3 separate regions of the Homo sapiens genome follow, and regions 2 and 3 are each linked to region 1. Evidence: fine-mapped QTL for protein levels in blood plasma. A gene starts in region 1. Each other region holds a variant in brackets. All regions are shown on one strand. Distances are between the middles of the regions. Region 1 holds the start of ADAM12 (ADAM metallopeptidase domain 12). Region 2 overlaps ADAM12 (ADAM metallopeptidase domain 12). Region 3 overlaps ADAM12 (ADAM metallopeptidase domain 12).

What was found. PIP is the posterior inclusion probability: the model's chance that the variant is causal. Protein levels are from antibody-based Olink assays in UK Biobank. Linkage for the fine-mapping came from a reference panel and not from the study's own genotypes, which makes the PIPs less certain.
Region 2: its variant is fine-mapped to the plasma level of the ADAM12 protein (UK Biobank, PIP above 0.99).
Region 3: its variant is fine-mapped to the plasma level of the ADAM12 protein (UK Biobank, PIP above 0.99).

Annotation. Positions count from the first base shown.
Region 1 is chr10:126,384,892-126,393,075 of GRCh38, forward strand. ADAM12 (ADAM metallopeptidase domain 12) reads right to left here and starts at 3,586. Exons shown (of 23, transcript NM_001288973.2): 1 at 3,167-3,586. The coding sequence starts at 3,254.
Region 2 is chr10:126,034,220-126,042,403 of GRCh38, forward strand. ADAM12 (ADAM metallopeptidase domain 12) reads right to left here. Exons shown (of 23, transcript NM_001288973.2): 19 at 5,075-5,210; 20 at 4,022-4,130; 21 at 1,927-2,106. Among named protein-coding and RNA genes, the nearest start is that of FANK1-AS1, 65 kb to the left of the region's middle. The variant CA/C (reference allele first, on the strand shown) is at 4,145.
Region 3 is chr10:126,251,451-126,259,634 of GRCh38, forward strand. All of the region lies in intron 3 of ADAM12 (ADAM metallopeptidase domain 12), which reads right to left. Among named protein-coding and RNA genes, the nearest start is that of ADAM12, 130 kb to the right of the region's middle. The variant T/C (reference allele first, on the strand shown) is at 4,574.

The DNA.
Region 1 (8,184 bases):
AGGGCTCAGTCCCACAAGACTTCCCCCCAATGTCAGATGCCAATCACAAGTAGTAGGTTGTCACACCTATACTTCTGACCAACTAGCTATAAGTTGGGGGTCCACAACCCCCTTCTCAGGTTCAGTTAATTTGCTAGGTAAGCTCACAGAACCACAGAAAACACTTGCTTATATTTACCAGTTTATTATATTAATGAAGGATGTAATTAGGGACACAGATGAAAAACAGTTGGAAGAGATGCAAAGGGCAGAGAATGTGGAAAGGGATACAGAGCTTCTGTGTCCTCTCTAGATACGCCACCCTCCAGGAACTTTGATTTGCTCAGCAATCTGGAAATTCTACAAACCTTGTCCTTTGGGGGGTTTATGGAGGCCTAATTACACAGCCATGATTAATTACACCATTGGCGATCAAGTCAACCTTCAATCCGTCTCCCCTCCCTGGAGGTTGCAAGGGAGGTGGCACTAAAAGTCCCAACTCTAATCATGCCTTAACAAGCTCATTAGCATACAAAAGACACTCTTAATACCCCAGAGATTCCAAGGATTTTAGGAGTTCTGTGCCAGGAACCAGGGGCAGAGACATATTTCTTATTATATCACAATATCACAGCTTGGTGCACAGAAAATAAAGCAAACAAAAATCAAGACAAGGCAATCATTAACTCTAGGAAAAGCAAAAAGTTACAAGAGGGATGAAATGCCATAAAACACTGCACGGCAAAACAGTGAAAAGTATTTGCAAAGTCTTCTTAGTGCAAACATTGAATTTTTTTTTAATGATGGCACTACTATATTGGGTAGTTGAAAAGAAGAGAAGGCAGTGTGTCTGGAGTAGGGTGAGCAAAGGGAGAATGGTAAGAAAGGAGATCAGAAAGGAAAACAGGAATTAGGTCATGCTGAGGTTTGGATTTTCTTTCCTAAGGGTGCTAGAGAGCCACTGGGGAGTTTTAGACAGGAAACTTGAATGCTCTAACTCATGTTTGAAAATAATAACTTTGGCTCTATTGTGGAGGAAAATATACCATGCAGGGATAAGGTGAAAAGCCAGTAGGCCCGTTGGGTAAGAGGGATAAGAGGCTTCTGCAGAAGAGATTTTTCCTATAATGTGGCCTGGACTGGGAAAGGCACACTTCGGGATGTAAGGAAGTGGGTAGGTGGGAATATACTTAGGAGGTTGGTGGCTTACGGAGTAAAAAGAGGGACACAGGGATGACTTCCTGCATGTCAGCACAAGGCATGTGGAGAAGGCAGAGGAGGTTGTTACTGGGTTCAGGAAGGCTGGGGAGGGAATGATTTGCAACTAGAGAGTCTGGGATCTAGGGTTCTGTTTTGGACTTGTTAGGCCGAGTTGCCCCAGAAAGTACCAAGTAGGCAACTGTGCCAGGGCTCAGGGTACAGACAAGGCTAGGGAGAAACTCAGAATATGCTCAGACTCAACAGGTAGTAATTCCTCCTTTTCTCTTGCCAATGCAAAGAAATGTTTCATTATATGTTTGGCGTTTTATACGGCCTCAATGGTATGATTTGGGGCACTGATTGATTGAAGACTTGATACTGAGAATCTAAGGGTAAACAAGCAGTGAATCCTGGAATATATCACAATAGGTAACCCATTCAAAGTGCTTAGGCCTCCCTGGTTTTCTATTTTGGGTCATATCTGTCTTAAGGAAACACTCTCTCTACCAAAGCTGAACTCATAAAATAGTAAAAGTCCTCCCCCGCCCACACACACAAGAAATAATTTCCCATTATTAGCTGGATTTAATAAACATTTTCTTCCAAAAAAAAAATTTGTCCCTGCTCAGTAGACTTCTCTTTATGTGTACAAAGCACGTGCCAAGTTAAAGACCATGTCAGGCACACTTTGAGACACTTTCCGTTTTTTAAAAAGTTCTTTCTTAATAAACATTCAAAAGGACCAATTTGTTTAAAAGTCTTTCAAAGCACAATTCACTACAGGTCGTAGAGTTCTTTAAACCCTCAGCAGGATTCTTTCTTGACTTTCTCATTGCTTTGTGCAATCTTTGTATTTAATCATTTATCCCCGAATTGGTCTTCGCAGTGTGGCTTTTAACAAGAACTGGGTTTTAGCCACATTACAGTAGACGCGGTGGGGGCGGAGGGCAGCAGTGGCAATCGCAAAATAAAACGTATCATAAAGTGGTAACGGTTCGTGATTTAGGCCAGTTGTTGAAAAATAAATGCCTGTTATATAGAATCACAGAACTTGAGAGCTTGCGGCCAAGGGAAGTCGTTCATCGGTGGACCGACAGCGCCCCGGGCGGCAGAAAGAAGGCGGCGGCGGCGGAGACCCGGGGAAGTTGCCGGATTTTTAAAAAGGCACCTGCTGGGTGAGTCCTCACTGTGCAAACGGGAGCCACAGGTGCCCGATTTTAAGGGGCTACAACTCGGGAAAACCTAAGTCTGTAAAACTAAGTACGTTAAACTAAGTAAGTTCTCGCTGTGCACCAAGTTGATGGGGGCGATTATTTACGGCGGAGAAACTGAGTGGAGGAAGGAGGGAGAATTCCGCTAAAGTTTGCCTGCGACTGACAGCTAGGGAGTGACCTGGAAGCCAGGAAGAGGGGCAGAGAGGAAACTAAAGAAGTAGGTAAGAGAGTCAGTTTATGAAAATAGAGCCTGCTGTGGAGAGCAGCAGGCACACCTGCGGAGGAGGGGGCTGCCTCACCTGCGGGGCCGCTGCGCGCCCCCCTAAGTGTGTTAGCGGGGGAGGCGGGGCTGGAAAGGAAACCTGGTGAAGGGCTGGCCCGGAGCCTGGGGTGGGGATATTCACTGCGGGATAGGGCCAGCAAGAGGACCCGACACGCATCGTCCCGAGTGACACGTGTAAATGTCAAGATACAGAGACATCTGCAAATGTCACCCAAGAGGGTGAGGACGGGGGAGCGGTCCCGAGGCTGTGCCCTCCGGGGCAGGTACTGGCTCCTGTGGGGCTGCGGGCCAAGTGTCGCCCTTCCCCAAGGAATTGGCACCTGGGGGGGGGGGGTCGGTCTCGCCGCGCTGGAAGCGCAAGCCCCGGGGCTCCGGAGATGCGCCGGGGCGCGTCGCCCCTCGGGGCAGCCCTGGACCTCGGCGCGCCCAGGCGCAGCGTGCGGTGCCCTCGGCGGGGCGGGCAGCGAGCCGCCCTAGTTCGGCGACTTACCTCGGGCCTCGCAGGGCGCGAGCAGAGCACCGGCCAGGGCGAGCAGGAGGGCGCGGGCGGGGGACACGGGCAGCGGGCGCGCTGCCATCGTCGCCGGCCTTCAGTGCAGCAGCTCTCGGGCCCGGCGGCGAGCGCTGCACCATCCCACGCGGGCGCCGAGCCGGGGCCGGGCGTCGCGACCGGAGGGATTTCCTGCCTCGGCGAGTCAGCTCCGGAGCCCTCGCGCAGCGCCCGCGCCGCCGCTGAGCTCTTCTAGCCTTTCATTTTTAAAAAAGTTTCCCCCCGTGTGTGTGCGTGCGTGCGCGCGCGCGCGCCGTTCTGGCACAAGCCAGCCTTGACCGTTGCAATAAATGAGCAAACTGTCCGAGTTGGCCCGGGGACTAGGAAGAGCGTTAGTGAGAGAAGGCAGGCCTGTGAAATGGATCCACGGCCAGCAGTCACCGTTCTTATTACCGCGGAACAAATTATTGTCTCCCCCGCACCCCCGCCAGTTGGCGGCGTCCCGCGGGTCCTAGAGACCGCTCGGGTCCCCCCGCCAGGGTCCCGCCCCGAGCCGCGGCTCGCTCACCCCCGAGGGTGGGCGGCTCAGACGTGGCTCAGTGGCGTCCGGGCGCCCGGAGCGCACACGTCCCCGCCCCAGGATGATGTGGCCGCAGGGCCCGGGGCGCCCGGCTGCCAAGCGCACATGCGGCGGCACGGTCCAGCTTTTCAGGCTGAAGCTGGAAACGATGACTCTGCTACTCGCTCCCCGGCTCTCTGGGAACCCTCGGAGTGCGGGTCAGGTCTCCACCGCGGCCCACAGCCCGGCGCGCGACCCCGCCCGGCCCTAAGCGCCCAAAGGGGCATCTCTCGCCCGAGAAACAAGCTTGGACTCGCAGGCACAAGACACCTGGGCGTTACTTTTGATCAACAGTGTTAGGTTTTACGTTGATAGATTGGCTCACGTTTCCATTCCATGACCTGGACCCAGAAAAGGGTGTACAGTGACGTTCCCCAAACTTTCCTGATTGTAAGAAGCACCTGGGTTGGCTTGTTAAAAAGATTCCCGGGCGCCCTCCTACGCTTTCAGAATGAGACTCTCCAGGCTGTGAGGCCAGGGGAGCCCAGGGTGTTTGGAGAAACACCAATGAAAGAATGGTGCGCCTTGCCTTCTCATCCTTGTTCCGGGCTGACCCCACCTCTTCAGCCTCGCTCGGCCCTCAGGGAGACCATGAAAAGCAGCAGCGAGGGGGCCCGCACAGACAGAAATGGCTGGAGCTATGGAGGATGGCTGATGCCCACCCTGCGGGTTACCATGATTCCCAACCTTGGGGACTTATTAGAATAGTAAGAGTTAAAGACATTGCCAGCCCCAGACACCAGTTAACTCAGTTTCCCACAATGCGTGGAGCTCAATAGTTTTCAAAGCCTCAGGTGATTCTACTGTGCTGCTCAGACCTAGGACCACCTGCAGAAATTCCATCCTGGTCCTGCGACCTCGCACCGATTCCTGACGGAGCACCCACTCCTAGGAGGCGGTTATCCAGCATTTGAGGAAGCTGCCTTCCATACCATCTCTTCCCACTGCAGAGGAGTTTTCTCAGGAGTTCCCTCCCACGGCAGGTTTTGCAGTGTTCCCAAAACCCAGGTCGATCCTCCTAACAAGGTGCAGGACTTTCTTTTTAAAAAACCTTAGTGGGAAGCACAGGCTCTCCAGCCCCCTTCCCAATGCTGCCATATCTCAGTACCAGATCTGGAAACCAGGCCTGGTTCAAGCCCTGTGTCATATCTAACCGTACTACCAACCAGCGTTGCAGTGTACTTCTTTTGTTCATTCATTCAGTCAATCTACATGAGCAACCCTATGTTAGAACTTGGGAAACTAAACGAGAAAGCCTCTTGCCTTCAAAGACTTTTCTTTCTGATCAAACTGATAAATCATCATTATTGGACAGTGTGAGCTAGTTACTTAACCTAGTTAATAATGATTAGGCTTGTTTACTGATATGGTTTGGCTGTGTCCCCACCCAAATCTCATCTTGAATTCCCATGTGTTGTGGGAGGGACCTGGTGGGAGGTAATTGAATCATGGGGGCAGGTCTTTCCTGTGCTGTTCTCATGGTAGTGGATAAGTCTCAAAAGATCTGATGGTTTTAAAAAGAGGAGTTCCCCTCCACAAGCTCTCTCTCACTTTCTGCCTGCTACCATCCATGTAAGACATGACTTGCCCCTTCATGTCTTCTGCCCTAGCCATGTGGAAATGTAGGTCCATTAAACGTTTTTCCTGTATAATTTTACCCAGTCTTGTGTATGTCTTTATCAGCAGCACGAAAACAGACTATTTACTACTTCATAATTCATTACATACCTCGTATAATCGGAGTATTGTGCTAACGTCTTTCACCTGCATTATTTCATTTTTTAAGTCCTGAATATACAGATGAGGAAACTGCAGCATAGAGATGTAGCTTTCCCACCACCACACAGTGAAGTAGGTCAGAGCCCAACCTCAGATCTGTTAAAGATAAAGCCTGTTTCTTTAAGGCTGAGTTCCAACCTTCAGTTTTAGCAGCTGTTAAGTGAAGGTAAAATACAAACCTCCCAGGTGGTTGTGAGCACCAGGTGAAATAATGCAATGTCTCCCAACCCACCTGATCCCTGGGATGTCTGTTAAGAATTCAATTCCTCTGGCGTTTGCACTGGAGATTCTCATTAGAAAGGTCTGGGAAGGACAAGTTTTAGCAAGTACTTAGGTGATCCTGATACTTGTGGCCCATAGAACTTCAGACACATCGACGCAAGAGAATTAAAAATTGTTTTCTTCCAGCTCAAAGGGCCAGATTTGCTTGCAGATGAGCCCAGCCACTGGCCTCTCGGATCCTTCTGACTGGTTAAATGGTTTATTCACAATGGACCTAACATGTGCTGTGCACTGGGCTGGGGGCCTTGTATACATTTTCTCTTAATGATCAATTTATTTTCGCTCTTTCATATTCAATTGTTAATGTTGACTGTAAAAGTCCAATTTCTTTTAAACCTGGATGTTGCAAAGCTTCCTCCAAAGAACTAAATGTGCCCCAAGACTGTCCTTGATTTGTTTCTGACTGAACGAAAGAAAACAGCCATTGCAGAGGAAAAATGAAGAAAAATAAAATCCTGGCTGCAAGCTCTGGATTTCAACCCTGTAATTCACCATCTCTGTGAAGCAAGCGGCCTGGGCTGACACTGTCTCCACAAAGCCTTCATAGACATCAATAACAGCCAGCTAAGGCAAAGAGCAAATCCTGCGTCTGGCAGATGGTCTGTCTTTGGATGGAAATTCTGCCTCCTCATTCACAGGAAATGGAAGCCGACATCACATTCAATACTGGATTGTTAGGTAATGGTGTGGGGTCAGAGGCCAGGATCTACACACGAAAATTTCAGATAGATGGCTGGTTGTCCCTTCCTTTCTGGAAGAATTGACCTTTGCAATACTGTTTCCTGTGTGCTATTTTCGTTTAACAGCCTGGGCATTCACAACGAACAGGGCACTTATTTCTTACCCAAGCTCATGTAAGCTCAATCTGCTCTGAGTACAAGCAGATGAAAAACGGAGACAAACTTTCCTAAGCCAGGAATTTACAGGCAGCCACTGCTAATTTCTGCAGTAAGTGAAGAGCCGGCCTCCTTGCAGAGTGACCTATTGACAGAACTTCAGACACAGGCTTGCAGAACAGCTTTCCTCTCTCCAAGCACAGTTCCCAAGGCTTACTCCAAACGTAAACAAATGTGATCACCCCAAGATTAAGATTCTTGGAAATCATTTTTATTCTATCTCTTGGAGAGATGAAAACTCCTGCTCCTCTCGGCGTATTATAATAACATGTAGTCCATTTTTCTTTTCCTAGATCTCTCACTTCAAGAATCCATGCCTTCACCTCCTCAGAAACCTGCCCCCAGTGAACCTCTTCTGGGCAGATTAAACCCTCTTGTCTCTGATGCTTTCATTATTGCACAGAATTAGCACTTAAGTAGCACTAAACGCCAAAGAAAGAATGCTCCTGGGGCTGGGGACAAGGAACTCGGGGATGCGCTGTGTCACAAGAGACAGGAAAGGTCACCCCATCTATATTCATCTATGTCACCTACCCACTGACCAGTCAACTTCTCCAACCAAGTGACAGTCATACTTCACTTAACAAAGATACATTCTAAGAAATGCATCATTAGGCAGTTTTGTCGCTGTGTGAACATCACAGAGTGTACTCACACATCTAGGTGGTACCGCCTACTACACATCTAGGTTTTATGGTATAACCTGTTGCTCCTAGGCTACGAACCTGTATGGCACATGACTCCACTGAATACTGTAGGGAATGGTACAGCAAAAAGGCAGAAAGGTACAGTAAAAATACAGTGGAAAAGATTTTAAAAAATGGTACACCCGGATAGAGAAGCTCCATTATAATTTTATGGGAGCATCCTTACAAGTGCTCAAGTGCGTACCACGTGATTGACCAAAATGTCATTTGGTGACTCATGACTGTACTGTGATGGGAAACTTATTATGCCCCTCCCTACACACCCCCAGATTCCATTTTACGTACCCCAAGTGACTGACAGTACTAAGAGAAACAGACACCTCCTGGAGCAGCAGCAGCTGCTGAGACAGCCTCCTAGACCAGGTGCTTATCTCTCCCGCCATCAGCGGGGGCAGGCTGAGTGCAAAGCCAGCACACAGCGAAAGGAAAAGGGGAATCTCAAAAACAAACATGAACTATGACAAGAATGACCAAACATTTGAGGATACTTCATTTAAGAAATAGGGCTGGCCGGGTGCGGTGGCTCACGCCTGTAATCCCAGCACTTTGGGAGGTCGAGGTGGGCGGATCGCGAGGTTAGGAGATCGAGACCATCCTGGCCAACACGGTGAAACCCCGTCTCTACTAAAAATACAAAAAATTAGCCGGGGGTGGTGGCGGGCGTCTGTAGTCCCAGCTACTCGGGAGGTTGAGGTAGGAGAATGGTGTGAACCCGGGAGGCGGAGCTTGCAGTGA
Region 2 (8,184 bases), 350 kb before region 1:
AAGGGAGGTTATGCCTTTCAGAGGACATTTTGGCAATGTTTGGAAACATAATTACACATGTTACTTCCATCTAGTTGATAGAGGCCATGGATGCTGCTAAACATTCTACAATGCATAGGAAAACCCCACATAACAGAGTATTCAGTACAATATGTCAAAATGCTGAGGTTGAGAAACTGCCCTAGTGTAATCATACAAAAAAAATACAAAGATATATACTCAAAAACATAAATGCAGATAAATCAATATGGAATACTAATCTACAGGAACACAGAAAAAGCACAATGAAACAAAAACCAGAGAGAACAAACAGAATAATATTAACATGGTAGACTTAAATCCAAACATATCAACAATTGCATTAAATATGAATGTTCTAAACACACCTATTAAAATATAGTGACTGGCTAAATGGATGAAAAAATCTATATGCTGTCTACAAGAAACGCTTTTCAAATGTAATTCCATAGGTATGTTAAAAGGATGGAAAAATTCATACTTTGCTTTTTATCCTGTTTTTAGAAGTAACCATTTCTGTTTGCTGCAATCATGAATGATGTTTCCTATTGTGAAATATCATTCATGATTGCAAAAAGACAACACTAATACTAATCAAAATAAAACTGGAGTGGATATAATAATATCAGATAAAGTAGATTTTAGAACAAAGATTACCAGAGCTAAACAGAGACATGACATAATGATAAAAGGGTCACTTTACTAAGATGACACAACAATCCTAATTGTGTGTATCGCAAACAACAGAGCTTCAAAATACATGAAGCAAAAACTGATGAACTCAAAGGAGACACAATTATAGTGGAAAAGTCCAACATCTCCTCTTGGTAACTGACAGAACTACTAGACAGCAACAAATTGAGATATTTTGTTGTATTTATCAAACTGGTAAAAGTTAAAATTTAGTGTTAGCAAAGTCATGGTGAGAAAGACAATAACAATGTGGGAACGCAAATGTATATGAGTTCTGAAAAAATATTTTTATATTATGAGGCTTAAAATGGTCATACAATCTTTCAACCCAATATTTTACTTTTAAGAATCTCTCCTAGGGGAATAAAGAGGTCCCAAGATTTACCTCTCTAGAACTTTCTAACAGCAAAAAATGATACATCAATACATGCCCAATAATTTGCAAGTACTTAAACATTTATATTCAAGTATAGTGTTATTATTAAATAGGATTTTTAATGCCATTGTAAATGGGACTAATTTTTAAGGCAAAACAAAGCAGCATATAAAACTGTGTACAAATAAATTATGTTAAAATACACAATTATAAACAAAAAATATTAATAGCAGTGAAAAATTACCAGTGATTATCTCCTACTTATTTGCTTGTTTTCTCCTCCCTTCAAGTTTTCTATTGTGAAATATCATTCGTTATTGCAGCAAACAGAAATGGTTACTTCCAAAAACAGCATAAAAATGAGATGATATACATAAACAATACAGTGCTAAGTTTGGTACGGAGACACTCTGTATATAGGTGGTATAGTTCTTGTAAATAATTTTGAAATAAAATGATGAGAGAGTATAACTGATGCTTCTTAGGGTGACCATCTGTCTTAGATTGCCTGTCTCTATTTTACTGTACAGGCCTAATTATTACTAGTCCCTCTGCTATTCTCAATAGTGTCATCGTTTAGTTGCATGAGTGGTCTAACTATTCAAATACTTAAAAAATTATAACTAGTAAATTAAAATATATGACACTCTTATTATTATACTCCAGGCACCAAACTAACTGCTTTATGTGGATTATCTCATTTAACCATCTGAGTAGCTGAATTATCTCCATTTTACAGAGGCACCGAGAAGTTAAGCAACTTATCTAAGCTCACACATTAACAAGTAGCAGAATCTGGATTTGAACTACATCCTATCATATTAGTACTGAAAGCATACCTGGGCCTGCCTAAGTGCAGGCTTGGCTGGCAGGGGTCTGGCAGGGACGCTAGGTGCACGTGGAGCCCGGTGGAGGGGAGGAAGCACTCGCTGAGTTGACTGGGGCTGAGGGACATTCAGGCCGTTGAGGGGTCTGCTGATGTCAACATTCTGACACTGCAGCAATCTCCTGGGATTGTCCTGTACAGTCAAAGTAAAAAGCCATGCTATAGCGGGTTTCAAAAATATCAGTAACTCCTTAAGGAAAAAGCAGTGCTAACTCATCTGTTATAGCTGAAGGCCAAGGTGGGGTAAAGGAAAGAAATCAAGGATGTACACAAGAGGGGAATTATTTTTGTATTTATTTAAACTTCAAAATTCAAACAGAAGCATCACCTGCCTCCACCCCACCAAATCTGGAATAGAAGGATCGATTTTTGTTTAGATTTTAAAAAACTGTTTAACAAATAGGTGCAAAGCACTTGAAAAAGTACCAAGTATAAAGAAAGACACGGACCGAGATCTTAGGGAAGTTACAAAAGAGATGTGAAAATAAGATACAGCTTAATGTGTTCAAGGCTCAATGAGAACTGAGAAAACCACTGGGGAAAGGAGAGTTGCGGCTTCAGGAAGCCAGGGCTGAGGTTGGGGCTTGGAGTTGGAGACGTTCTCCCATATGGTAACCCTTGTTCTTAGAACAGGTGCTGCAGGGACCCTTATACCTCAGGCTTCTACCCCTTCCTTCCTCTCTTTCTAAAAACAGCTTAATTGAGGTATAGTTGACATAAAGTATACAACTTGGTCATTTTTTGACGTGTTTACACCCATGAAACCCTCACAACAAACAAGTGGACAAATGAATGCATCCATCACCCCAAAGAGTTTTCTTGTCATGCTTCTCCCTTCCCTCTCCCTCCAATCATCAGTCTGCTTTCTGTCACTATCAGTTTGCATTTGTCAGAATTGTATATAAGTGGGATCACAGAGTATATACTCTGGCTTTTCTTCTTTTACTCAGAATAATTATCTAGAGATTCATCCTCAATGTTGTATACATCAATGGTTCATTCCATTGTGCAAATATACCATTGTTTATCCTTTTACTGGTTGATGGATATTTGGATTGTTTCTAGTTTGGGGCTCTCAAAAATAAGGCTGTGCTTTTTTTTTTTTTTTAATAGAGCTGCATTTTTCTTTTTTACGAAAATGAAGATGTGCTTTTGGCTACCACACAAAGCCGTTCTCGCTTATGGTTCCACCTTTGGGGACGAGCAGGGGTAAAGCTTATTGGGAATGGCAGCCTCCTCCTTGGAGCCCCACCCTTTGCGTTTTTTGGATCAAGGGAGTTAAAACAGTTTATTGCCTACTGCATATGCAGCAATGATTTTTCAATCACTTATTTTTTTTGACACCAATCTTGTTCACTGTTATAATTTGGACTCTTGTTGACTAAGTTCAATATTCAAGAATTCTTGTGGGTACATCAGAAAAACTCGGTGGGGAAGAACTATTAGAATGAACTCTAGCTGTAATTCACCAGGGTAGCAAGAGGGTTAAGAGACAGCAGGGAGCCGTGAGGTACTCTGGGTTAAGGATCCAGTTCTCTGAAACCACAGGGTGGACAGGGCTTCCTCAGCTCAGGGCTGGAGCAAAATGGTCAATTCTGAGAGCTCCATGTAACTTTTGAAAAATATTTTAAGAGTAACAGTGGGCTAAAGCAGCTCACCTAAAGCCAGGTGGTGGCATTTGGAAACCATGGTGGGGCTGGCATTGGGGGCTGGTGTCAGGAGCCAGCTCGGGCTGCAGACCCAGTGGGGCCCCAGAAATGTGGCTGGTCTGGGTGACTGAAGGGATCACAGCTCACACTATGCTGCACCATATCATGCAGGGGGCACTGAGTGCGCCAACAGGATCTAGGTGGGCTTCCATGGGGGCACCGTGGGGCCTCCCTCTGGCCCCAGATCACAGAGACCCTCCCTCAGAGCCTGCTGACCTAGTGAGGCTGACTCAGCATTTCACAGGCAGCGCCTCTAGGATCCCATTCTTATTCAGTCTCGTATTGAAAACCTCATGTCTGCATGTGTGCCCTGAGCACTCACATCTACTCAAGACTCACCTTCGGTGGGTAGGAATCTGGCGGCTTCCTCATCAGGCCTTTTCCAAGGTGGCCGAGGTGAGCCTGACAGGGTTGGAAGCCACGGGGTGGCCGGGAAGGGCGCACACACCTGCAACAGAATCC[CA/C]TACCTGCTGACCAAGCGTGTTTCCCCTTCTCACTGACTTGACTTTTTACACTTTGCTCATAGTGGCACTCAAAAGACAGTTTACTTAACTCAGTGTGCTAAACATGCAAAGGAAAAATTACCTAATAACACTCTTAGGAGATTAAAAAATAAATACTGGTTTTTCCCTCAAAACCTCTATTTTGTCAAATTAGTTCTCACGCTCCATAGAAATGCAGTGTAGTGACACCTGGAAGATGATTTGTATGAAGCTGGCATTTCAGCGATAATGTCTTTGAATATATTTGGATCAAAAGCTACCCCATCTGATGAAAATATTTCAATGTCTCCATGTTGTATAAAAATTACTAATATAAGGGTGGGAGAAAACACATCAGTGGAATTTCCTGACACCCTGCTAGCTTATGTAATAAGCAGCACATTGTTGTTTGAAGGGAAGTAAAGGAGGCAGCTGATCTGGCAGAAATTTAAAACAAGAAACCCCCCAAAAAAGAACCAAGTCCCAGGTTTATGATCCAGAAAATCTGACCTTTGCTAAAAAAATGAAGTGAGAAGCAGTTTGCTGTACATTTTCTGAGACACCATTTCTTTTTTTTTTTTTTTTTTTTTTTTTGAGATGGAGTCTTGCTCTCTCGCCCAGGCTGGAGTGCAGTGGAGTGATCGCAACTCACTGCAAGCTCCGCCTCCCGGGTTCACGCCATTCTCATGCCTCAGCCTCCCGAGTAGATGGGACTACAGGCACCCACCACCGCGCCCGGCTGATATTTTGTATTTTTAGTAGAGACGGGGTTTCACCGTGGTCTCGATCTCCTGACCTCGTGATCCGCCCGCCTCAGCCTCCCAAAGTGCTGGGATTACAGGCTTGAGCCACCGCACCCAGCCTCTGAGCCACCATTTCTAGAACAGATGACAAGCTAAACCCAGGGTACCTTAGTTTTTCAATGGTGGTCTTCTTATTTGTAAACAGCAGTCGTATCAAGGTCTTCCTTTTGAGATAAACCACAAATCCGGCAGCAAGAAGACACAGGATGGTCACCAGAATTCCTATGGTTAAACCTTGGTTATCTGAAACAAAACACATGGGGCTCACAGAAGGAGGCAGTTACAATGAAATATGGGAGGTATCAAGTTGTGACGTTTATGGCAAAGTGAACTCTGAAGCAACAGAAATGAAGAGAGTACACCCGTGAGTGATGTACTAATAAACTGTCTTACTTCAGATGCCATGTTTGAGGTTCAATCTATGTTACCATCATTCATTTCTGACAACTCTAGAACTTGCTAAACAGGAATATATAGTCGGGTAGGTGGGGTGATGGTCTGGACCACGCAGGTTCCCTGAGGCGTGACAACGGCACAGTGGACCATGGTAGCCACAGAAGGTAGCAGGGAGCCATCACTGAAGCCTCACTGGAATCACAGCCATCCCCAGGCTCAAATGTTTCCAGTCCCCAGCACAGATTTGCCATTCCAAAGTGCTTTTCTTTACTCATTCTGTAGTTGGGTTCTGCTTTATCTCTTTTCGTGTTTTTAAAAAATGAATTGCTTTCTTGCTGGACATCTCAAAGTAGATAGTGAAAAAAGAGAAAGAAAACTCATTTAAATGAAACACCCATGGGTTTTGCTTTGTTATGTTGGGGACTTAAAAACACAGCCTTTGTGGGGGAAACCCTTTTCCTGGGAGGAAGCTATTTTCTCTATGAAAACATCTTCTTTTCTATGACCTGCTGCCATTTTGTTTAATACAGTTAAGAGCCTCCTCAAGGGTAGGGAAAGGAAGGAAAAAAATCAAACCATCAGGTTGGTTTCTTACAGTAGCTATGGTCAGCGGCTGTCTGGGAAGGACTCTAAATGCTCAGACTTAGAGGAGGTCTACCTGTGATTTCAACTGGACAGTGAATTTTTAGAGGACAGGGATCTTGATTCATTTGTCTTCCCATCAGCAAGGATCAGGGTGTACTTCACATCAGGTAAGTGTGCAACAGTCCTTTCCGGCTGCTGGTGATCGCCGTGATGCAGTTACCTGGGCTCTCCTCGGCCCTGCCTCCCACCTGGACCCTCAGCTGGCTGTGGATCACTGCAGCAGCAGCTCCTACTCCAGGGAAAGAATGTCTTTCACACCTTCTTGGTTTCTGGACCCCATCCCCCACTAACAAGGCCTATCAGGGATGTGTCTTAGCCTAAGCAAGACAGCCAACAGATGACAGTCTTGACTTACTTGTTGGTGTTACTGGAAAAGCATTGCTTCTGGTTTCCTGGGCAAAATGTCACTCTTTTCAGACCCTTAGTAGTGATCACAGGGGGCTCTAGCTAGAGTTCTGGTGTCTCATAACAAAGTTAATTAAAGTTAATTTAAAAAGTGAACAGCAAAAATCTTGAACTATAATTTCTAGTTCCATAAAGTGAATCCATAAATCTTCAATACATCAATCTATGAAACTGAACATTTACAGGGCCCCCACACTGAACCTGCTGAACTCCCCAGGGTTGCTCAAGCCAGAGGCCCGGGCAGTGACTGACTCCATTTCCCTCTTCCCCAGGACCAGCACGAGCACCGTGTCCTGTGTCCCCTCCTGTTGGCCCAGTCCGCACTCTAGAATCTGAGCCCAGGCCAGTCCACACTCCTCTAGATCTTCGCACAGCCAGCTATCTCGGCTTCAGAATGCATGTTTCCCTCGCCCCCTTCAGACCTCAACAGATGCAGGGTCCCCAGGAGCCTTCCTGACAACCCCCTGCCGCTCTGTGGGGGTTGCTCCCCTCCCATGATGCCCTCTCTCCCTGCAGTCGTACCCCTCACTTATGCCATGTCATTCTTGCTTAATGTCTCTCCAGGACCCAGGAGAGTGGCTGGTGTGTGGCAGACACACAAGTACTTGTTTAATGAGCCCCTGAGCCATGGCCAGGCCAGGGAGCAGTGAGCCATGCTTGCTCATGGCCTGCCTTGATTTTATATATGTATGAACAGGGTGGAGGCAGCGGTATTTCAAATGCACTCTATTTTATGCAGTAATGGCCACGGGGGATGGAGTTAGGCTCTTACATTGTTTTCACTTTTTAACATTCTTACTTGTTAAATGAAGGGTTGGTGACTCTGTGGGTTCCCTGGCTTTCTGCAAACCCTCAAACCTGAGTACTGCTGGTCACGCATGTCCACAGCAAAGAGCCAGAGTTCACCGCCCTTTCTCCTACCTTCTTCTCCAGTTTGTTTCATTGCCATTCAGTTTGCTTGGATGGAGATGGAATGGGTGGCAGGGTCTCTGATAAATTAAAAACTAAAACCCTGCTATTTTCATATAATAAATGCTAAAAGCCATATCAGAGCATTAAGTTGCAGCCAGAGACCAGTCATCAGGGCTGCCAAGGCTGAGGTGTCACTGGGGAAAGGGGACACTGGGCCCAACCCTTGCTTCTCCCCCACTGCTGTGGAGGCTCAGTGAAAGGCCAGACTTTTGAGTCCTCTTCCTCCTTGCTGCAGGGCTGGGGCCTGCCAGAGTGGTAACCTGCTACTCTCTCAGGAGCAGCACTGAAGCATGTCCATGTTTTAGCAGAAGCTCAACCAGGAAGTCGCTGCCCTTCCTTGCACTGTTTCTGCAGACGTGCCTGGTAGGCTGGACTTCCCCTCCTGAGCCCCGAGAACTGTGTTGTGTCTGTTGTCATGGAAACGATGGCAAAGCCACAGAGTCAATGCTGCCAGTCACAGGAGGCCTTGGGGACGCGTGACCTCCTCTGCAGCAGCACTGGTCACGGTCTCCATGTCATGGGAGGGCTCAGATGAGTGTCAGTGAGGCAGTAGACGCATGCTCCTGCGATCCCACGGGCTCCTGGCCCTGGCCGCGCTCCCTGTTGGACTCTGCAGCTTCCTGCCTTGCTTCTTTCCCTCGAAAAGAGGCATCATTTAGACTTGCCCCTGAATTGCCCAATAAGAACTCAGAGAAAACAGCACCGCACCAGTAAACCATTTCTAAAGGTCATCCGAGGAGAAATGGCCACGAGTTCAAGCACAGCTGCTACTAAGAGCTTCTTGGGGGACAGGCAGACC
Region 3 (8,184 bases), 130 kb before region 1:
TGGATGGATGGATGGGATGGATGGGATGGACAGATGGAATCGATGCGATGGATGGGATGAATGGATGGGATGGACAGGATGGATAGATGGATGGATAGGATAGATGGGTGGGATGGATGGGATGGATGGATGAACGGACAGGATGGATAGGATGGATGGATGCATGGATAGATGAATGGATGGGATGATGGGATGGATGGGATGGATAGGAAGGATGGATGGATGGGATGGAGAGGATGGATGGGATGGATGGATAGGATGGATGGATAGGATGGGATGGATGGATATGATGGATAGATTGGATGGATGGATGGGATGATGGGATGAATGGATTGGATGGATGGATGGGATGGATACATGAATTGATGGGATGGATAGGATAGATGGATGAATGGGTGGGATGGATAGGACAGATGGATGGATGGGATGGATGCAATGGATGGATGGGATGGATAGGATGGATGGATGGGATGGATAGGATGGATGGATGGGATGATGGGATGGATAGAATGGATAGATGGTTGGATGAACAGGATTGATGGATGGATGGGATGGATAAATGGATGGATGGATTGGGTGGGATGGATAGATTGGATGGATGGATGAGATGGATGATGGATGGGATGAATGGATTAGATGGATGGGATGGATTGGATGGATGGATGGGATGGATGGATGGATGGACAGGATGGATGGGTGGATGGATGGGATGGATGGATGATGGATGGACTCAATGGATGGGATGGATGAGATGGATGGATTAGATGGATGGATGGATTAGATGGATGGATTGGACTGATGGATGGGATGGATGTATTGGAGAATGGATTAGATAGATGGATGGAATGGATGGGATGGATGGATGGATGGGAGAGGATTAATTATGGGAATTGGCTCATGCAGTTATGAAGAATAAGAAGGCCCATGATACGCTGTCTGCAAGCTGGAAAACTGGGGAAGTTGGTGGCATATCTCAGTCCAAGTTCAAAGGCCCGAACACCAAGGGAGCTGATGATGTAACTCTGTCTAAGGCCAAAGGTCTGAGGACCTGGGAGGCCAGAGTCTAAAGGCTGGAGACCTGGAGTTCTGATGTTCAACCAAGGGCAGGAGAAGATGAGTGTCCCAGCTCCAGAAGAGAAAGTGGGCAAATTCACTTTTCCTCTATTTTTGTTCTATCCAGGCCCTCAACTGACTGGATGGTGCCCACCCACATTGGGTTACGGGGGATCTTTCTTACTCAGTTCACCAATTCAAATGCTGATCTCTTCCAGAAACACCCTCCTCATGGATACATCCATACATAATGCTTTACCCGCTTTCTCGGTGTCTGTTAACCCAGTCAAGTTGACACCTAAATTAACCACCACAGTCACACAGCTATGAAGTGGTAGAACAGGGACACTGAGCAGGTTGCCTGGGTGCAGAGCTGATGCCTTAGCCCTGGCATACTGCCTCCTGCTCCTTGTAGAAAGGGACAAAGGTGGCACTTGCAACTTCATGGTCTTCTTTGGAATTTCTCTGGATGATTTTTCAACCATGCTCTGATATGTGCTCTCGAAACCCTGAAGTGACGTTCTATTATAGCTACTGTCACATAACAGGACATACCTGTTTAGGACTGTGGTTCACATTCCTGATGCCATTCCAGAAGGACTGTGCCAAAATATGCTTAGCACTCACTGATTTGAAGTATTCTTCCAAACCCACCCTTCCCTGAACCTCTCCCTGCAGGGTCCAGCACAGGAAATGGTTTCTGACCACTCTTGACATTTACTGCAATTTTTTTTTTTAAGACCGAAAGCGTGAGCATGCATATATTACACTTTCAAGTCACCATGATGCATTTCTCCAGCATTAGCTTGTGCTTTTACAACTGGTCTTCATCAAAGGTTTTTCATCTGCTCGCCAATGTGGCATGTGTCCTAATGACTCATGATGAGGAGTCGTTCCTTTTAGCATGATTTATGCTCGCTTATCATTCTCTTGTTCTCCAGAGGGGAAAGCTGCTCTACTGAATGAGCTCAGCCCACATAGAAATAGCCACTAAGCAGCTGTCTCTTCATGTTAAGAAAACTAGCTAATGGCAGTGTCCACGAATCATCCCACTTGAAGATTAGAACAAGACATCTGCTTCTCGTGTGGCAGAGCTTGGGCTAAGAGGGGGAACACCCACCCCCCAGAGAAAACCCTGCTCCTCTGACAGCTCCTGGACTCACTTTGCTTGAGCAGATCTTTGTGGGTTGGGTGGGGGGAGGGCTTCTGCTCTCCTCCTCATACTGTCCCACTCTTCCTCCCAGAGGGCTTGTAGGGACCAGGGCAGAGCCTGGGATAAGCAGGGAATGAGATGCGGTTCTTGCCTGGCCTGAGCTGGCACAGGCTCCATGAGAGAAGCCTCAAGGATGAGTGAGGTGAGCCCTAAGCCCTCCCCGTTTCTCTTCACTGGCAGGCCTGCCATGCCCCATCCTGTACCTGGAGTTGAGCAATTACAGCACAGGATGCTGAAGGCCAGACTTCCAGGGCGCTATGTCTCTGCCGGCTCACCCAGCCCAGTGCTATCTTCAGTCAGAGCCATTCAGTGGCCATCCTCCAAGGTCCTATGGCCCCTCTGCTACCCTTCCCCAGTCCCCTCCTGGGCAGCACTGTCCATCTTCCCAGCTCATCCCTTCCTTTCCCTTGGGAGGCTCCGGAGGTGTGTTCAGCTCTCAGCCATTAGAACAGGTTTGTAGCTTGGGGTCTGCAGGCAGCCTCCCTGGGTCTGCAGCCAGCTCTGGCACCTATCAGCTGCGTGACCTGGTGGGAGTCATTTGATAGGGCTGTGCCTCAGTTTCCTTGGCTGGAAGACAAGGACAGTAATGGCACATACCTTATAGGGTTGATGTGAGGAATAAACAAGATAATGCAGGTGAAAATGCCAAGCGCAAGTCATGTGCTCCCTCTGTGTCAGCTGTCGGCATTGTCACTGGCTCCAGGAAGAACCTGCGGTCTGGTCAGCTTCACCCCAGCAAGAGCAACTGACAACACTTCCTTCTCAGGATGCAGTCTTGGCCTCTTCCCCTGCGGATGCTCTCCTCATCTCCTCTTGCCTTGCTCACAGAGTCCACCTGCACAGGTGTGTTACTCAGCGTCAATTCCACACCCGGTCCAGGCGGGAGGCCCTTTCCTTGGCCCTCCTGAACTGCTGTTCTTCCTTCCTTCCTTCCCTAGGATCCAGAGCATCCATGGAGCCACCACCGTAGTGAGGACAAAGGCCACTGACCGCTCTGCTCACATGCTCCCAGGCCTCCTCTGAACTGTGCAACAGTCGCCATCGCTGGGGAGGCCCCTCTGTTTTGCAGGGGTTTCTTCACCTGTTCAGAAATTGCTTCAAGACAATAGGACTTAAGAGTGTACTGACAGCCTGGAACTGTCATTAGAACCATTAAAACGTCATCTCTCTTGACATAAACCATAATTAAGACAATTAGGGCACCATCTCTCTTCCCTGACATCAGTCCCCCTTTACAAACCACAGAAGTCTCATGTTCTGGCCATAGTTCGCCCCGGTCACCAGCCCCCGGTGGCATTTGGACAGGGGCCACCCTCGGAGCACGGCTTTCCTGCACCCGAAGTGGGGTCAGCTTGGACAGCTTTGGGGCATTCCTGTCGTGAGCCCATCTGCTGACTTGTCCTGCAATGCCACCCTCTGTGGGTTCCACACTAGCAGTCCCAGCTCCCAGTGGTGTCGCCGGCCAGCTGGCACTCAGGCTGATGTCAGGTGGTGATAAGTACAGGTTTCTTCCTGTCTTCCTTTTGCTACACTCAATGAAAGTTTGTGAGGCCTGAGAACTGAACAGACTCAGGTTTTGACTTACTTTGGGAAGTAAGAAACTGCTCCTTTTGTACCTCAAAAAGAAGCCTCAGGTGTGTGGCAATCTCAGATGGTGTCCCGAGTCCAGCTCTCGTTCGCATTCAGTCCCAGCTTCCTCCCCACGGCTCCACCTCACACACTCACCCTTAGAACGCAGCCCCTTCATGGCAGGAGGACTAGGAGGGTCCAATAAGGCAGTTTAAACATTGATGATGTCATCATGGCCATACTATTAAATTTTGTAAAAAGCAAACAGCAAAGGTTTCCAGGAAAACTGATTTTTAAATCCTAGCATTAAACAAAATAGTACAACCTCGCTTTATACTAATATCAAAACACACTTCCTCCTGCCCACGGAGGGTCCCTCCTGATGGGGACTTCGTCTTACCTTTCTTTGAATCCCCAACAAAGCACCTGGCTCCATGAGGGTTGTCTCCAGGACAACTGAATGATACTCTGAAGGGGGGATGGCAAAGCTAACTGGCCCCATTGCAGCTAGTCTCAGAGATGTCTGCACAGAGGCAGCAGACAGCCGAGGCACACGCCTGGTCATTATGGTGTTATCCTTCCCTCGCCTCTACCGGAGCCAGATCCAGCTAGTGCAGGCTGTCCAAGGGCCTTCGGCATCAGGAACGGTGCAGGGAAGGAGGTGGGTGCCCATGGGCATCTCGTCAGGGCACTTACCACCCAGCCAAAGGAATATCTTCACTCGCCCACCACGGCTGG[T/C]AGTTAGGACCAGCCAAGTCTGCCACGGTGGTGCTCAACCCTGTTGCTTCTGCAGATCACCTGGGACACTTAAGAAAAATACTTATGTCCAGGTAAAAGTAAATCAAATCACCCCCCTACCTGGCAACTTTGGTTTTTGCTCCAGGTGATTCTAATGTCCAAGCAGAACGAAAGCCATTGGTCTAAGATCTACCAATCACATTGTATGAATGAACGCTTAGTTTGTGAATGAATGGGTAAACATGAATGCAGAGTCCTATGGCTCTGTAACAGTAGAAGGCCAATGTATTAGGAAACAACTCTGGGTTTATGACCTGGACCCTTTGTTTTAGTTTCTAACTCTACCAACAACTACGGGATCTTGGGCAAGTGTCTAAACCTCCCTGCTCTTCCAGTCTCCATCTGTAAAATGGGTGACGTGGCCACAGTGATCTCTGAGGTCCCTTCATTCCCTCTGCATTGATAGAGGTTCTACTACCTTGAGCCGTCGCTGTGTGTCAGACTCTGGTCTGGGAGGTGGGGATTCAGCCCTGGGGCCTTCAGGAGCTTACCTTCCAGCAGACATCCTCACTTCCATCTACTTCCACTTAGAAAGTCTACAAATCCAGGAGTCTACTTCATTTATCTGGACAATAGCCCAGTGCAGAGAAGCAGAGACTATACCAACTAAAAAGCAGAGGAACTGGAGAAAATTTTCCCTGAATCACTCTGGAGGGCTTCAAAAGAATGGAGACAGATGAGATAGGAGCCCTAGAGGATGGGGAGATAGTAGGTTTATCCAGAAATCTCTTTTATATTAACACCAACATTGCAAAGGCTGGTTCTTTAAGTACTATATTGCATATATATTCCTAAGAAATACTGTTCCTGCACCTTTGGATGGGAATAATAATAATAATGATGATGATGATGATGATGATGGAGGGACTTCTGTGGTTTTGCAGCTTTTCATATTTTGCAGAGCATTTGACCATCCACTCTTAGCAGTAGCCCACCCACTGGCCACCTGGGGGCTCCCCAGTCCACTTCTGCATCCTGCATAAGGCCTGCAGTGCCCACTCTCAGCCCCTTCCTCCCTGAACACTGACACCACCTGTATGTGTACTGCCAGCCTGGATTCCCTTTCACTTGACAGCAACCACCTAACCCTACATGTGCTCTGCAAAACACAATGACACACACAGTTACCCTCCAAAGACAGTACCGGGAAGGAATGATGTCAGGCAGTGATGTCCTAAAGCCCAGACACCAGGTATGCCCAATCCTCACCAAAACACCTAAGTAGCCCTGGAACGTGCACATGGTCTTCTGTTCTGCGATCAAAATGTTCCATTTGTATTGAGATGGCCTCTTCGCTGCTGAGAGAATGCAGGAATTGCACTGAGTTTAGCAAAGGAACTCGATCTGACTCAATACAACTTAGAACAAAGAGGAACTTCTCAAGCATGTGATAATCTATTCTTTTCACCAACTTTCTCAGGTGCACGAAAGTGGTCATGCATTTCTACGCTGTATTTAAAAGAAAAACATTTTATTGACTCTTTAAATAAAACTCTATCCACAACTATAAAGGAAAATGGGGAAATATGACCTGTCACACAATCGCATAAAAATTTACATCGCAGATAAAATACTACAATCGCTTCATGAAATAACTTGCATCCATCAACCGTGGAGATGGGCAAGGAAATATAACCATCCTCATTTTATAGAGGTAAGAACAAAGATAAAGATAAGAATATATAAAAGCAGAGGTTAGAATTATAAAACCAGTCAGCCTTGCCAAGGGCTCAGGAAAGGCTCAGCAGCGCAAATGACTCCAGGCACTTAGAAGCAGGTGAGTTCCTAACCAGAGGTCATGGATTTCTGGACAACGGTGGTGTCTTTACAGGCACCATGCCTGGAAATAACTAGTAAGATAGGTGCCTACTCTATTTGGCAACCTCAAATAGAATTGGCCTCTCAATTTTCACAATGAGAAGATACCAAAAGGATTTTTGGCCATTTTATATCTGTGTCCCTATATTTATATTCAATTTTCACCTCCTGCTATATATCAAGCATAGAATAATATGCTAGGGACACAGTGGGGAACAATCCACTGTCTACTGACAATATTTAATTGGCCAATTCAGGCACACATTTAAAATAATGTAAGCATAAGTTTATTCAGATTGCTTTCTGCACTCTCATATCTTACAAAAACACTTTTATTTGCAATCTGTCTTTGTCCTCATTAGAGTCTGAGTCATCTCACAGTTTTCTAGACTATCACTTTCACCTGCATCTAAATGTCTCTGGATTCAGGATTTTTCCCTAATTATTTCTTAAATTCCTCCACCTCACTCATCCCCACTGCCTCCGTGCCCCACACGCCCCACCCGTGCCCCACACGCCCCACCAGTGTAATGGTCTCCCAGTGGCCTCCGACCTCTGCTCTTGATACTTTTTGTTTCATTCAGGAAGCCATTCTTAAAACACCCATTTCAATCCATCCATGCCCTACTTACCAACCTTCAGTGGCTTCCCCTGGTGCAGGGTGGCGTCTGAAACCTGGCCAGATCTAGTCTGGTCTTTGGTAGCCCCTTGGTCTCCCTTTTTTATTACTCTCTCAGCCCATGCCCTGGCATTCGGCCAGAGCCTCCATGCCACAAGCTCCTCACCCACCTGGGCCTTTACTTGCACTGCTTGCTTGGCCTGAAACTCTTCCTCCTCTCTGCACCTGGCTGACTCCCACAGGTGACAGTACTTCTAGCCTGTGGGCCTTCCCTGGCTGCCACACCAAGACACCTTTCTTTCCCTCATTGCCCATGCCCGTAAGCACTTCCAGTGCACGTAACAGCATAATCCATTATTTGTAAGATCATCTCTTTGGCATCTCACAGCTCCACTAGCCTGCAAGCTCTTTGAGGTCAAGGGCTGTTTCCCCCCTGTTCCCTACCGTGTCCCCAGTGTGTTGTTCAATGCTTGTTATATACCAGGAGGTCAAAAATAATGGTTGAATTTATAACAGCAGCACCAGCTAACCTTTGTGGGATATTTCCTATGCCTTAGACTCTGTAGTAAATGGTTTTATGGATTTTTGTATTTAATTCCTAAAACAACAGTAGGATCTTGGTGGTCTGTATCTAACAGACGTCAAACTGAGGCTTACACAGCTCAGTTCCTAAATTCACACGGCAGAGTGCAGCTTTCACCTGGGATTATCAGATTCCCAGCTCAGTGCTCTCAATTTACCTAGTGAAATAAATAACCTTCTTAGATATCCAAGCAAATGTGATACAGACGAAAAACCCTTCTTAAAAAAGCTTCAAGGAGCTTTGAGAGGAAAGTCAAGCTCTGCAAAGTTATAATACGTTTACAATATGAGCTATAGCCCTTGTGGCTTAAAAAAGTCTCTTTTCAATATTTTTGCAAAGTTTGTTTACTGAAAAGAGCGATCACATGCTTTCTTACTAACAAAAATAAAGGCCACTCATTTCTTTGTTCACTCAAAAGGTCTCAGGCACCTGATCTGGTCTGACACAGCAAAATATTTTACTATGGGAAAATGCAATTCTAATATTTGATACTTAGGTGGGAATTTGATGTCCTGATTTCCTTTGTTCTCT